Regions from separate parts of the Homo sapiens genome. Here region 2 is linked to region 1. Evidence: fine-mapped expression QTL. Tissue or cell type: whole blood. Region 1 holds a variant in brackets; the other region holds the start of a gene. All regions are shown on one strand. Distances are between the middles of the regions.

What was found. PIP is the estimated chance that this variant, and not a neighbour inherited with it, causes the effect.
Region 2: it holds the start of RERE, and the variant in region 1 is fine-mapped to the expression of RERE in whole blood (TOPMed, PIP above 0.99).

Annotation. Positions count from the first base shown.
Region 1 is chr1:8,356,414-8,363,744 of GRCh38, reverse strand. It overlaps RERE (arginine-glutamic acid dipeptide repeats), which reads left to right. Exons shown (of 23, transcript NM_001042681.2): 16 at 901-1,062; 17 at 1,869-1,982; 18 at 2,255-3,633; 19 at 3,759-3,981; 20 at 4,829-5,549. Among named protein-coding and RNA genes, the nearest start is that of SLC45A1, 42 kb to the right of the region's middle. RefSeq lists enhancers at 3,507-4,006, 4,007-4,508. The variant A/G (reference allele first, on the strand shown) is at 3,951.
Region 2 is chr1:8,815,456-8,820,455 of GRCh38, reverse strand. RERE (arginine-glutamic acid dipeptide repeats) reads left to right here and starts at 2,816. Exons shown (of 23, transcript NM_001042681.2): 1 at 2,816-3,296. RefSeq lists silencers at 2,279-2,508, 2,609-2,908, 3,159-3,218 and an enhancer at 2,572-2,866.

The DNA of each region.
Region 1 (7,331 bases):
TCAAATCTCTGCTATTTTAAACTTGCAGGCTCTTTTGTGTTAGTGTGTTTGTGATTTTTTTTAAATGTTTGATCCCGTTTTGGAAACTTCCGATACATTTTTCTGCTCACTGCATAGCTCCTCCCATAAAGAGACTTTGTTTCCTAGGTTGGAAATGTGCCAGGGACTTTGGGAGAGGCTTTTTCCAGGTTTGGGGCTGAGGGTACTGACAGGGTCTTTCCCTTCAGCCTCCCTTATGGCCCCTTCTGGCAGGTGGGTGGGACCATCCACTTTCCTCTGCCCCTTGTATGCCGTTGAGGCTGCTGGCAGCCCGGCCCCCGCTCACTCAGAAGGGAGCAGGTCAACCAGCCAGAACCATTGTCTCCTGATCTCTTCTGAGCCCTCATGGCTTTGCAGAAACATGCTGAAGCGCTTGGCGGCTTGGGGAGCTGAGCTGCTTTACTTGACAGCTTCATCTCTTTGGGTCACTTCCTGTCCTGTCAGATTAAATCCACAAGTGTTTGATTTCATTTGGTTTGGTTGGGAGAATGGACGGTTATGAGGAATAAACAGAAAGGGTGTAGGGTGCTTTAAAGATGGCCCCAGGCGACTTTCTGCCGCTCAGAAAGTGTGGTTCATTTCCAGCACACGTTGTTCAGGACAGTCCCTTGGGATGAGTGCTTTAGGTTTGAGAACCGCCCTCTGGCGTGAGCCCACTGATTTCCCCACCTCTTCCCTGAGCTCCACACCGACCTTCATGCAGCCAGGGACAGGCAGGGCGGCCTGTTGTTTGCCAAGGTCTGGGATTTGCTGAGAGGCTGATAGGGTGTGCCTTCAGGCTTCTGCCTGTGGGTTGGGCTCAGGTGGGTCCACATGGGGACTGGGAATCTGGTGTCACCAGTCTTCGGTTTGGGTGGGCAGATGTCGACACTACGCAGTGGTCGGAAGAAGCAGCCAGCCAGCCCTGATGGTCGCACCTCACCCATCAATGAAGACATCCGCTCCAGCGGCCGGAACTCCCCCAGCGCTGCCAGTACCTCCAGCAATGACAGTAAAGCAGAGACAGTGAAGAAGTCGGCCAAGGTCAGGTGCTGGGGGGATAGTAGGGCCTACTCTGTCCCTCCCTCACATTAAAACTGGTTTGCTGGTATTCGTGATCAGCTCCCTCAGACACGAGGATGCAGCTCATTCATGGAGCCTGTCTGGACACCAGCATTGTCCTGGCCTAGGGGCTGCAGACCGAAGGCTGGGGGCCTAGAGAAGGGGGCTCGAGCACCAACTCTTGGGGGCCACCTCTGCCTCAAGCTTCCCAAGTTCTCAGAAAGTGTGGGGAGTGGTTAGAACGGCTCCCTCCAGAGCCAAGTACAGTCCTCCCTTGGTATCCATTAGAGATTGGCTCCAGAGCCTCCACCGCCCAGGATACCAAAATCCACAGGTGCTCAAATCTCATATACATCGACACATGGTTTGCATGTGACCAGTCACATCCTCCTGTAGACTCTAAATCATCCCTAGGTTACTTCTACTGCCCAGTGCAATGTAAATGCAGTTTAAACAGTGGTTCCACTGTCTAGTTCAGGAGATAATGACAAGAAAACATTGTGTGCACGTTCAGTATAGATGTAACCATCACAGTCCTGCCTACATTTTCAGTCCATGGTTGCTTGAATCTGAGGATGCAAACCCACAGGTGCAGAGGGCTGGCTCTCATTCCCACCCCCAGATACGTGTTCCTTCTTGGCCCCAGTTGACCCTTCTAGAGCTTTTTGCTCCTGGAGATGGAACTCAGAATGAGGGAGCAAAGTGTCTGCAAACCGTCATTTCCTTGCTGAGGCTGATGGGATGGTCTCCCTTGGCCTGATTGCTCCTTGTGGGCTTTTCCCCTGCAGAAGGTGAAGGAGGAAGCCTCTTCCCCTCTTAAGAGTAACAAACGCCAGCGGGAGAAGGTGGCCTCTGATACGGAGGAGGCTGACAGGACCAGCTCCAAGAAGACAAAAACGCAGGTGAGGTTTGCTGCTGAGCCTTGCTGAGTAAAGCTAATGCTTCTTCAGAAGCCCCCAGCCGGGGTTCTCCCTAGTTGGTGGCCGTGCCCTGTCTCCTAGGGTGGGGCTGGAGTGGCCTTTGACACTGGCTGGGTCAGGGCACGACCTGTGGTCCCGGAGCCAAGCTTGCTGCTTCATCTGCACAAACATTACTGTGTGTCCGGCACTGGTGGTGCAGAGCAGACAGGGCTCTGCCCTCCTGGGACTTCCATCCTTCCCTTCTCTGACTCCAGGAGATCAGCAGGCCCAACTCGCCATCTGAAGGTGAGGGAGAGAGTTCAGACAGTCGCAGCGTCAACGATGAGGGTAGCAGTGACCCCAAAGACATCGACCAGGACAATCGCAGCACGTCCCCGAGCATCCCCAGCCCCCAGGACAATGAGAGTGACTCGGACTCGTCAGCCCAGCAGCAGATGCTGCAGGCCCAGCCCCCAGCCTTGCAGGCTCCCACTGGGGTCACCCCAGCTCCCTCCTCAGCTCCTCCAGGGACCCCTCAGCTGCCCACGCCAGGGCCCACGCCCTCTGCCACTGCAGTTCCCCCACAGGGCTCCCCCACGGCCTCCCAGGCCCCTAACCAGCCACAGGCTCCCACAGCGCCTGTTCCCCACACCCACATCCAACAGGCACCGGCCTTGCACCCCCAGCGGCCGCCCTCACCGCATCCCCCGCCGCATCCCTCGCCACATCCCCCGCTGCAGCCTCTGACTGGGTCGGCGGGCCAGCCTTCTGCACCCTCTCATGCCCAGCCCCCACTGCACGGTCAGGGCCCACCCGGCCCTCACAGCCTGCAGGCTGGGCCCCTGCTGCAGCACCCAGGCCCCCCACAGCCCTTTGGCCTCCCTCCCCAGGCCTCCCAAGGCCAGGCCCCTCTGGGGACCTCCCCAGCAGCAGCGTACCCTCACACCTCCCTGCAGCTGCCAGCCTCTCAGTCAGCGCTGCAGTCCCAACAGCCTCCACGGGAGCAGCCCCTGCCACCAGCGCCCTTGGCCATGCCCCACATCAAGCCCCCGCCTACCACTCCCATCCCCCAGCTGCCGGCGCCACAGGCCCACAAGCACCCTCCCCACCTCTCGGGGCCCTCACCCTTCTCCATGAATGCCAACCTGCCTCCCCCTCCAGCCCTGAAGCCCCTGAGCTCCCTGTCCACACATCACCCCCCGTCGGCTCACCCCCCACCCCTGCAACTCATGCCTCAGAGCCAGCCATTGCCCTCCTCGCCCGCCCAGCCCCCCGGGCTGACCCAGAGCCAGAACCTGCCCCCGCCCCCTGCCTCCCACCCCCCTACAGGCCTCCACCAGGTGGCCCCCCAACCCCCGTTTGCTCAGCACCCCTTTGTCCCTGGAGGCCCTCCTCCCATCACCCCTCCGACCTGCCCCTCCACCTCTACCCCACCGGCGGGACCTGGCACCTCGGCCCAGCCACCCTGCTCTGGTGCGGCGGCTTCAGGAGGCAGCATAGCGGGGGGGTCGTCCTGCCCACTCCCCACCGTCCAGATCAAGGAGGAGGCTCTGGACGACGCTGAGGAGCCTGAGAGCCCCCCTCCCCCACCAAGGAGCCCGTCCCCGGAGCCCACTGTGGTGGACACCCCCAGTCACGCCAGCCAGTCAGCTAGGTACGCTTCCTAGGGCTCCAGGACGGGTCAGGCACAGGTGGGCTGGTGGGGGCAAGTTCTGGTGGGAGGGAGGGCCGGGGTGGGTCTCGGCAGGAGCTCCCAGCAAGATCTGTGGCTTTTCTCAGGTTCTACAAACACCTGGACCGGGGCTACAACTCGTGTGCCCGGACAGACCTGTACTTCATGCCTCTGGCCGGGTCCAAGCTGGCCAAGAAGAGGGAGGAGGCCATTGAGAAGGCCAAGCGCGAGGCTGAGCAGAAAGCCCGAGAGGAGCGAGAGCGGGAGAAGGAGAAGGAGAAGGAGCGGGAGCGGGAGCG[A/G]GAGCGGGAGCGCGAGGCAGAGCGGGCGGCTGTGAGTCCAGGGTTGGCGAGGTGTGACGGGGGGCGCTGGTCCATCCTGCGCCTGGGAGCCACGCTGGGCCACCGAGCTCTGCCCTTGGCTGCCTGACTCGGCCTCCTGGCAGCTAGAGGGTTGGGTGCTATTTACACCCTGTCTCCACACCTCTGACGGGTGCTGCACATCCGAAGCTGCCGGGGTAACTGCGCATGGCAGGTCTAGGCTGACTCCCAGCAGTGACTGTGCGTCCTCCTACCGGAGGGCCTTCGAGGAAAGGGCCTGTCCTTCTCCTGCAGCCTTTGGGTTCATAACTTCTAAGTAATTTGAAGGAGTCGGGGAGAAGCACAAGGGGGCGCCTTGAGAGAAGACCTGAGCACTCAGGCGATAAGCAGGCTGCGAGGGGCCTCTCCAGCTGCCCTGCCTTTGTGGCCCCCTCGTGGGCTGGGTGCTGTGGTGGTGGCCAGCTCTCTGCTGTCGCGGGGAGGAAAGGGCAGCCAACCCAGGAAGTGGCATGAGGGACTGCCAGTGAGGTTCCTGGCCTGCTGGGCTCACTCACCCATGCCCCCCAGCTGTCACTCCCAGACACAACCCTCACACGTAGACAACCCATGCATGAGCTTAGTCTCACAGGGACACATTCCCATCTGGGCCTGAGGGGAGCTGCGGGCACAGGTGAGCCCGACCCTGTGGGGCCTGGACTGCATCCTGGTGTCAGGCCAAGGCAGGGCCGGGTCTCCGTGGAGGGACCAGGTTGGCCTGTCAGAGCAGGCCAGGAGCAGGACCAGGCCCACCTCCGCAGTGTGGACCAAGCGGAGACCCCAGGCGCTCGGGGGACCCCTCACGCTTTCTTTTCCTTCTGCAGAAGGCGTCCAGCTCAGCGCATGAAGGTCGCCTCAGTGACCCACAGCTCAGTGGTCCTGGCCACATGCGGCCATCCTTCGAGCCACCACCAACCACCATTGCTGCTGTGCCCCCCTACATCGGGCCCGACACACCTGCCCTTCGGACTCTGAGCGAGTACGCCCGGCCCCACGTCATGTCGCCCACCAACCGCAACCACCCCTTCTACATGCCCCTTAACCCCACGGACCCCCTGCTGGCCTACCACATGCCTGGCCTCTACAACGTCGACCCCACCATCCGCGAGCGGGAGCTCCGGGAGCGGGAGATCCGAGAGCGGGAGATCCGAGAGCGGGAGCTGCGGGAGAGGATGAAGCCGGGCTTCGAGGTGAAGCCCCCAGAGCTGGACCCCCTGCACCCAGCCGCCAACCCCATGGAGCACTTTGCCCGGCACAGCGCCCTCACCATCCCCCCGACCGCCGGGCCCCACCCTTTTGCTTCTTTCCACCCGGGCCTGAACCCCTTGGAGAGGGAGAGACTGGCCCTGGCGGGCCCCCAGCTGCGGCCCGAGATGAGCTACCCTGACAGACTGGCAGCCGAGCGTATCCACGCAGAGCGCATGGCATCGCTGACCAGCGATCCCCTGGCCCGACTGCAGATGTTCAACGTGACTCCGCACCATCACCAGCACTCTCACATTCACTCCCACCTCCACCTCCACCAGCAGGACCCCCTCCACCAAGGTGCGTGCCCCAGCGTGGCAGGTGGGACAGAGGCACGGGGAGGGGTGCAGAGCCTGATGAGTGACAGTCACCATCCAGGAGCGGAAACTGTTCTTTTCTGAACAGATCCCTCATCCCTGGCAGATCTTAGAAGAGCTCAGCATCCACTACCGTCATGGTTTTGCTGTATCGCAGTCTCTCCTCGGCCCCGCAGCTCTCCAGAACTGCAAGGCCTCAGACAGCTGCAGCACACGGGTGAAGCCTGGGTTCTTGGCCCTGTGCCTGGGATGGAGGGAAGTGGCCTAGGCCCACAGGGCAGGGTAAGGGCAGCAGAGCAGTGTCATGTGGCCTTTGGAGCCAAGGAACGTACAGATAAGGCACTGGGCTACTCAAGGGTGGCTGAGGGAGAATGAAAAGCACAGTCCTCTTCCCTTGAGGAGCGAGGCTGGGCAGGCCTCCTGCTGGCTTTGGCTGAGTTTTCCGAGCTGACCCACCTGGCCAGGGCTGCTCAGTCCTGTCCACCCTGGAAGTAGGAGCTCCTTAAGGCCACTCATTGACCAGCTGTGGAGAGGCTGCTCTGAGGCAGAGGCAGGCCCAGCTGGCATCCTCACTCCCTCTGCAGCCTGGTGAGATGGCGCAGGGGGTGGCTACTGTGCTTACGAGGAGGCAGGTTCACCTGCTCCATGGGACTTGGAGTACAGGTCCTGTGGGACAGCCTACGTGCAGGGCTTCCTCACTGGCCACCCTCCAGTGTGGGGCAGGATGACTGATAGAGCAGGGCCCAGAGGGAGGGCGGGGAGCCACCTTGCTTGGAGGCACCAGGCGCCTCCCCTGCCCCTGTACCCAGTCCTGACATGGGAGAGCACTCACCATTGCCGTCCTCATATCTGAAGCTCTGTTGGCACCTGGTGTAGACCTTACAAGCCTCAGTATGAGCAGTGTTGAGGACAGGTAGTCATTTGTTCATTCATGCATCATTCATTCAGCAAGTGTTTACTGAACCCCTGGAATGTGCCAGGCACAGTTGTAGGTGCTGGCAGAACCCCTGTCCACATTTACCTTCCAGTTTGGGGAGATAGTTGAAAGACGTGTGCCACGTTGTGAGAGGCAGAAAGTATATGTTCTGGAAAAAAATAAATCCAGAAGAGGGGATCAGGAGAGCTGGGCGCAGGGGCAGTATGGCGGTTTCGAGAAGGCCGTCAGGAGAGGTCCGCTGAGGAGGTAGCAGAAACATGGAGGAGATGAAAGGGCAAGCTGTGGGAAATCGGGGCAAGAGCAGCCACAGAGGCAGAGCGGGGGCTCCCAATCTTCCAGGGACCCCAGGGCAGCATGGCTGGAGGTGGCAACCCTGAAATCCCTGCCAGCGCCTGTGTTGGCTGGAGCTGGGAGATAGGAGGTGAGGGCAGGAGGTGGTGCAGTGAGGTCAGATCAAGGCAACGTTCTGAAGGGAGAGACGCAAGATTTGTGCCAGCAGAGAGGAGAGGGCAGTGCTGTGCCAGGTCCCCATTCTGCGCCACCCACTCTGCTGGCCTCCTTTAGGTTCTGCGAGTGAAGAGCAGGGAGACAGCCCTGGGCAGGGGGTGCCAGCCCAACACCCACTGGCGCAAGGCTGTGTGTTCCTGTGACCTGACAGGCAGAGGGCAGGCCCAGGTGGCCGGCGAGAGGGACCCTGCTGATCCCGGGTCCTCGACAAAACTGGCCTGGGATTGCCTGTTAGGGGCACTCCACAAGCGGACGAGGGAGTGCCTGCATCAGCGGTGGGCTCGTCACTTCTCTCGGCCTCTGGAGCTCTTGCTGAAGGTG
Region 2 (5,000 bases), 460 kb before region 1:
AAACCCTGTCTCTACTAAAAATACAAAATTAGCTGGGCATGGTGGCACATGCCTGTAATCCCAGCTGCTCAGGAGGCTGAGGCAGGAAAATCGCTTAAACCCGGGGGTCAGAGGTTGCGGTGATCTGAGATCGCGCCATTGCACTCCAGCCTGGGCAACAAGATCGAAACTGTCTCAAAAAAAAAAAAAAAAAAAAAAAGAGATAATAATAATACACTTCATGGGGAGAAAAAGTGGGCTAAAGAATGTAACATGTTTCTTAGGGCACTGGGAACATAAGCTTTCAATCAATAGTTTAATAGTTGTTCTTAACGATGAAGATTATTTTACTGCATTATCAGCTTCTCAGATCCTTGGAAGGAGGTCCAGTACTCTCCGGCTTTATGGCTGGACCACAATTCTTTCGTGGGACTGTTACAGTTAAATGGGTTTAGTTTGCTAATTTTGTGGTCTGATACCATATATTATGCTTTGTAACTATGTGGCATTTCTGGACTTCTAAATTTACATTTTTATGGATAAATGAAAGTGACGGCCAATCCCTAATACCATAGTAAATGTTATTTCCTAACGTGGAGAGCCTCTCTCCTCCCTGCTGGATGGCAGTGCATTGTCCATTTGTCTACCACAGAGCTGAATCTTTATTAGAAATAATGCTCCTGTAAGTTTCGAGACCAGCCTGGGCAACATAGTGAACCTCCATCTCTACTAAAATTACAAAAGTTAGTTGGGTGTGGCGGCACACACCTGTAATTTCAGCTACTCAGGAGGCTGAGGCAGGAGAATCGCTTCAACCGAGGAGGTGGAGGTTGCAGTGAGCTGAGATCGTGCCACTGCACTCCAGCCTGGGCAACAGAGCGAGACTCTGTCTCAAAAAAAAAAAAAAGAAAAAAAAGAAAGAATGCTCCTGTAGATAGAGATTTTGATGGAAAGTGAAGCCATCTAACTGATATACTTTATCCCTCATCATTTCCAAACAGGAAGTCAGATAGTCCTATCCATATCTAGAATGTTGGAAGCAGTTTATTGAATTTATTAGGTTTTAAAATTCAGTTCTCACATTATCAGATATATAAAGAGATATTAACTAGTTTCCCCATTTCATAACTCCAGCAAAGAGGATTTTTCTTGCTGAAAGTTACTCAGAAATGTGATGGCAAGGATCTATGGCTTTTTTTTTTTTTTTTAAGATCTCTTGGGTCATGGTCCAATAGTATCTGTTAGTCCAAATTATTCTTTAAAGAATAATTGAATGTGGGCCGGGTGCGGTGGCTCACGCCTGTAATTCCAGCACTTTGGGAGGCTGAGGCGGGCGGATCACCTGAGGTCAGGAGTTCGAGACCAGCCTGACCAACATGGAGAAACCCCATCTCTACTAAAAATACAAAATTAGCTGGGTGTGGTGGCGCATGCCTGTAATCTCAGCTACTCGGGAAGCTGAGGCAGGAGAATCGCTTGAACTGAGGAGGCGGAGGTGGCGGTGAGCCGAGATCGCGCCATTGCACTCCAGCCTGGGCAACAAGAGTGAAACTCCCTCTCAGAAAAAAAAAAAAAATGAATAATTCAATGTGGAAATTATAATCTGAATAGATTTTCCAAGGAGAAAATTATCACTTCTTTTGAAACAGATGAGTGAATTATTTTGTGCTACGTTTTCTACCCCTTATTTTATACGGACCTTAACTCCTTCGGGAAGAGTGTATGGTATAAGGACACCAATAAGCATTTACAGAATATTAACAAACCAACAATAGGTTGATGATTCACCCTGGATTCGTGCCAGGCTCTGTGAAAGAACTCAATAAACATGATGTGCATTTCAAAAACTGCTAATCATAATTGAAATTTCCAAACCCCTCAATCCCATAAATTATATGAACTAGAATATGATCATTTGGCCTGCCCCTACTCCCTTTACAGCATGATAGACCCTGTGATTATCAGGCTTTCGGGAAGTGGGACACAATACTTCATTCTTCAAAGAAAAAGAGGTGATGTTTGGTCTTTTCCTCTTTTTAGATTTTTTTTCACACGTACCTTATAGAGTTGTACACTGCTCTTTCTAAAATCCCTTCTGTACCTGTACAGTCTCTCCTTTATGCCTTCATGACACTTTTTATTCTTTTCAAATAAGCAGTGCGACTTATCACTTTTATTTTTCTTTCTGTAATTCATCTTTTGTCATGTACACTATTTGAAAAATATTACAAGCCGCTCATCAGAATTTCGAAAGAGTCCATATGAGAATGGTTTACACCCACTCTGTAGCCCGCAGCAACATGGATCCGCGTCCTAATGACTGAAAAGGCCAATTAAGACCCGGGTAACAGCAAGATCAACCGGACTTCCCCCCACCCCACCCGGGACCTGCCCGCGCCGCCAGCCCGGCCCAGCCCGGGGGGCGCGGGGGGCGGTACTGGAGCGCGGCGGGCGGCGGAGGAGGGCCGGCCTCGCACTCTCACAAAGACGCGCCCGCGGCGGGAGCCCAGCCCACCGCCTCTGGCCGCCGCCTGCAGCGCGAGCCCTCGAGCCCCGGGCCGCGGCGTTGTCAAGGCTCGGCCTCTCTCCGCCTTCTTCTCTGCTCATTTTATTAAAAAGATTAAAAAAAAAAAAAAAAAAAAAAAAAAAAGGAAAAAGAGATCCCGCCTCCTCCGCCTCCCATTGGCCGGGCCCCCGGCCGCGTCACACCGCGCTGTACCAATGGAGGGGCGCGATACTGCGAGGTGGGCCGGGCCCGAGCGGGGAGTGGGCGGCGGGTCGGTGCAGCAGCTCCGCCGCGGCTCCGCCACCATCGCGGAGGTGCCGCTGTTCCCACAGACGCTCGCGAGCAACCCTCCGCGCTCCGGAGCCTCCTCAGCCTCCCGCACACCCCGAGACGCTCGCCCCGCTGGGCCTCGGTCCCCGCCTCCTCCCCCGTCCTTTTCCCCTCTCTCGCTCCCCACATTGTCTCTGCCTCATTTTCTCTCCTAGTTGAGGATTAAAAAAAAAAAAAAATCACCATCATCCTCAGGGAGCCCCCTCGCCCTCGGAAAACAAAACCAGACATGATCCTGGGCTCCTGCTTCTGAAAGATCTGCCCGACCGAGGAGGAGGGAGCCTAGGTTCAAGTCGCAGGAAAGGTCACGGCAGGGAAGCCCCCTCAGCCCCTCCGCGTCGCCTCCCCGCGGGCCGCCCCTCTCGGCCCTGCGCCCCGCGGCCCCGCAGCCTCCGCGCGGCCTCCCGCCCCATCCCCGCCACTTTCCCCGGAGCTGGGCCGCGAACACCTCACTATTGATGGTGTAGCGCTTTAGGGGAAGGTAAGTGTCCAACTTGCCCGCGCCGGGTCGTGTGCTTTCTTTTTTGGCCCCTCGTCCTGGTGGTCAGAGAGGGTCGGCCGTGAAAGCAGTCACTCGCCCGGGGGGAGGCAGGAAGAAAAGGCTGGGGTCGAAGCCGAAGTCGAGGGGAGTCGGGCGAGGGCAGGGCACTTCTTTGGTCCTGTCCGGGCCAGGTGACCGTTCCTGCGTGCCTTCTGACCCCTGCTCTCTCTTGGCCTCTTATTCATGCTCTTGTTCTACTTGTTTGAGGTTAAACTATTTCATGTGACTACATTATTGGCTGAAACTGGAAGGGAAGGAAGTCAAGGACTGAAACTGTAAATTTCTTGAATGTTTGTGGATTTCGGGGTGCTGGGGGGAGGACTTTATTATTAAAGTATCATTTTCTCATTGGGGGAAGATTTCCTCTTTGTGCTCCCAATCTCTAGTTCTCAGCTGTATGTGATTAGAAAATTATGAAACCCAAAGTCACTTGCAGCAGAATAGAATTCTTACTATCCTGTTTTAGTTCTGCTCTCTGAAGGAGGGTGGCTTCTATTTATTACTAATTTTTAAGATGATGGAAAGATTCGTAGTTTTACATACACGTGTGTATGTGTGTCTGCTAGGAGGGGGGAAAAGTGTTGCAGGCTTCCTTTGAAACTGGTTGCTTGAGAAGTTGTTGAAAGGAAAACAGAATGATTCATTGTTGAATTGTCATTTTCCTCTGTCTCTTTTCCAAGGTTTGCTTACAATTTTTCTGGATTACAGACTTCAAACATTGATTTAAGTAAAATGGGTCCTTGAGAAACTGGGTGCTTTAAATGTTTCAGTATCTGTTGCTTTTTTAAGGTACATTTAGAAAGTAGTTTTGTATGAATCGTGAAATAGCCTTCTTCACAGCGAATTTTTAAACGCAAAAAAAGATAACTAGTAAGAGGGTGAACTTGGTGAATTACAAAATAGACATTTTAATATAGCAGGAATTGATGCATCTAAGATTTGAAACAGTTTTCATAATTGCTTTCCATTTAAAGAGAGACCTTTTTGTCTAGTGTACACTGGTCTTTTTAGTCTCAGTCTGTTGGGGGAGGGGAGAGAAGCTGGATCTGTACAATAATAAAATCATCTTTGGGTTGATATTTTGTTCCATGGATTTGCTTGCTGAGTTAATACTACTGTAAATTATCAACCAGTTTTGATTTTGATGGCCTGGGATGGGTGGAAAGCTGGCTTCCAGCTCTCCCTGTTGTTGTTGAGGTCGAAGGGAAAAGAGGCAGAGGCAGACAGACACACATATACACACACACACACACACATACACACACACACAATACCAAGCTGAGGGCTCATTGTTCTTCCATACACACATTCATTCTCTCTCTCCCATATTTGGGACTAGGTTTGCACAGACAAACACAGCTCTTTTTGGGAGAGAAGAGAGAAGATGGGGGAAGGGAGGGTGCTTTTCTGTTACAGCTTTCTTCCACCCATCTCATGCCTGGCCGTTTTTGCAACCTTGTGAGGCAGAAGAGTGCATTGGAAACTAAAGGACACTCAAAAACATGTTCAGAGACTTCTCTTCTCTCTGCCTCCCTTTATTCCTTTTGCAGCCGTGGTTTCTGCTGCTCTTTCTTTTTTGTATATGTAAAGATAAAATCCCTCTTTATATGTTGTGGCCTTACGTTCAGCTCTCATTGCTTTTGT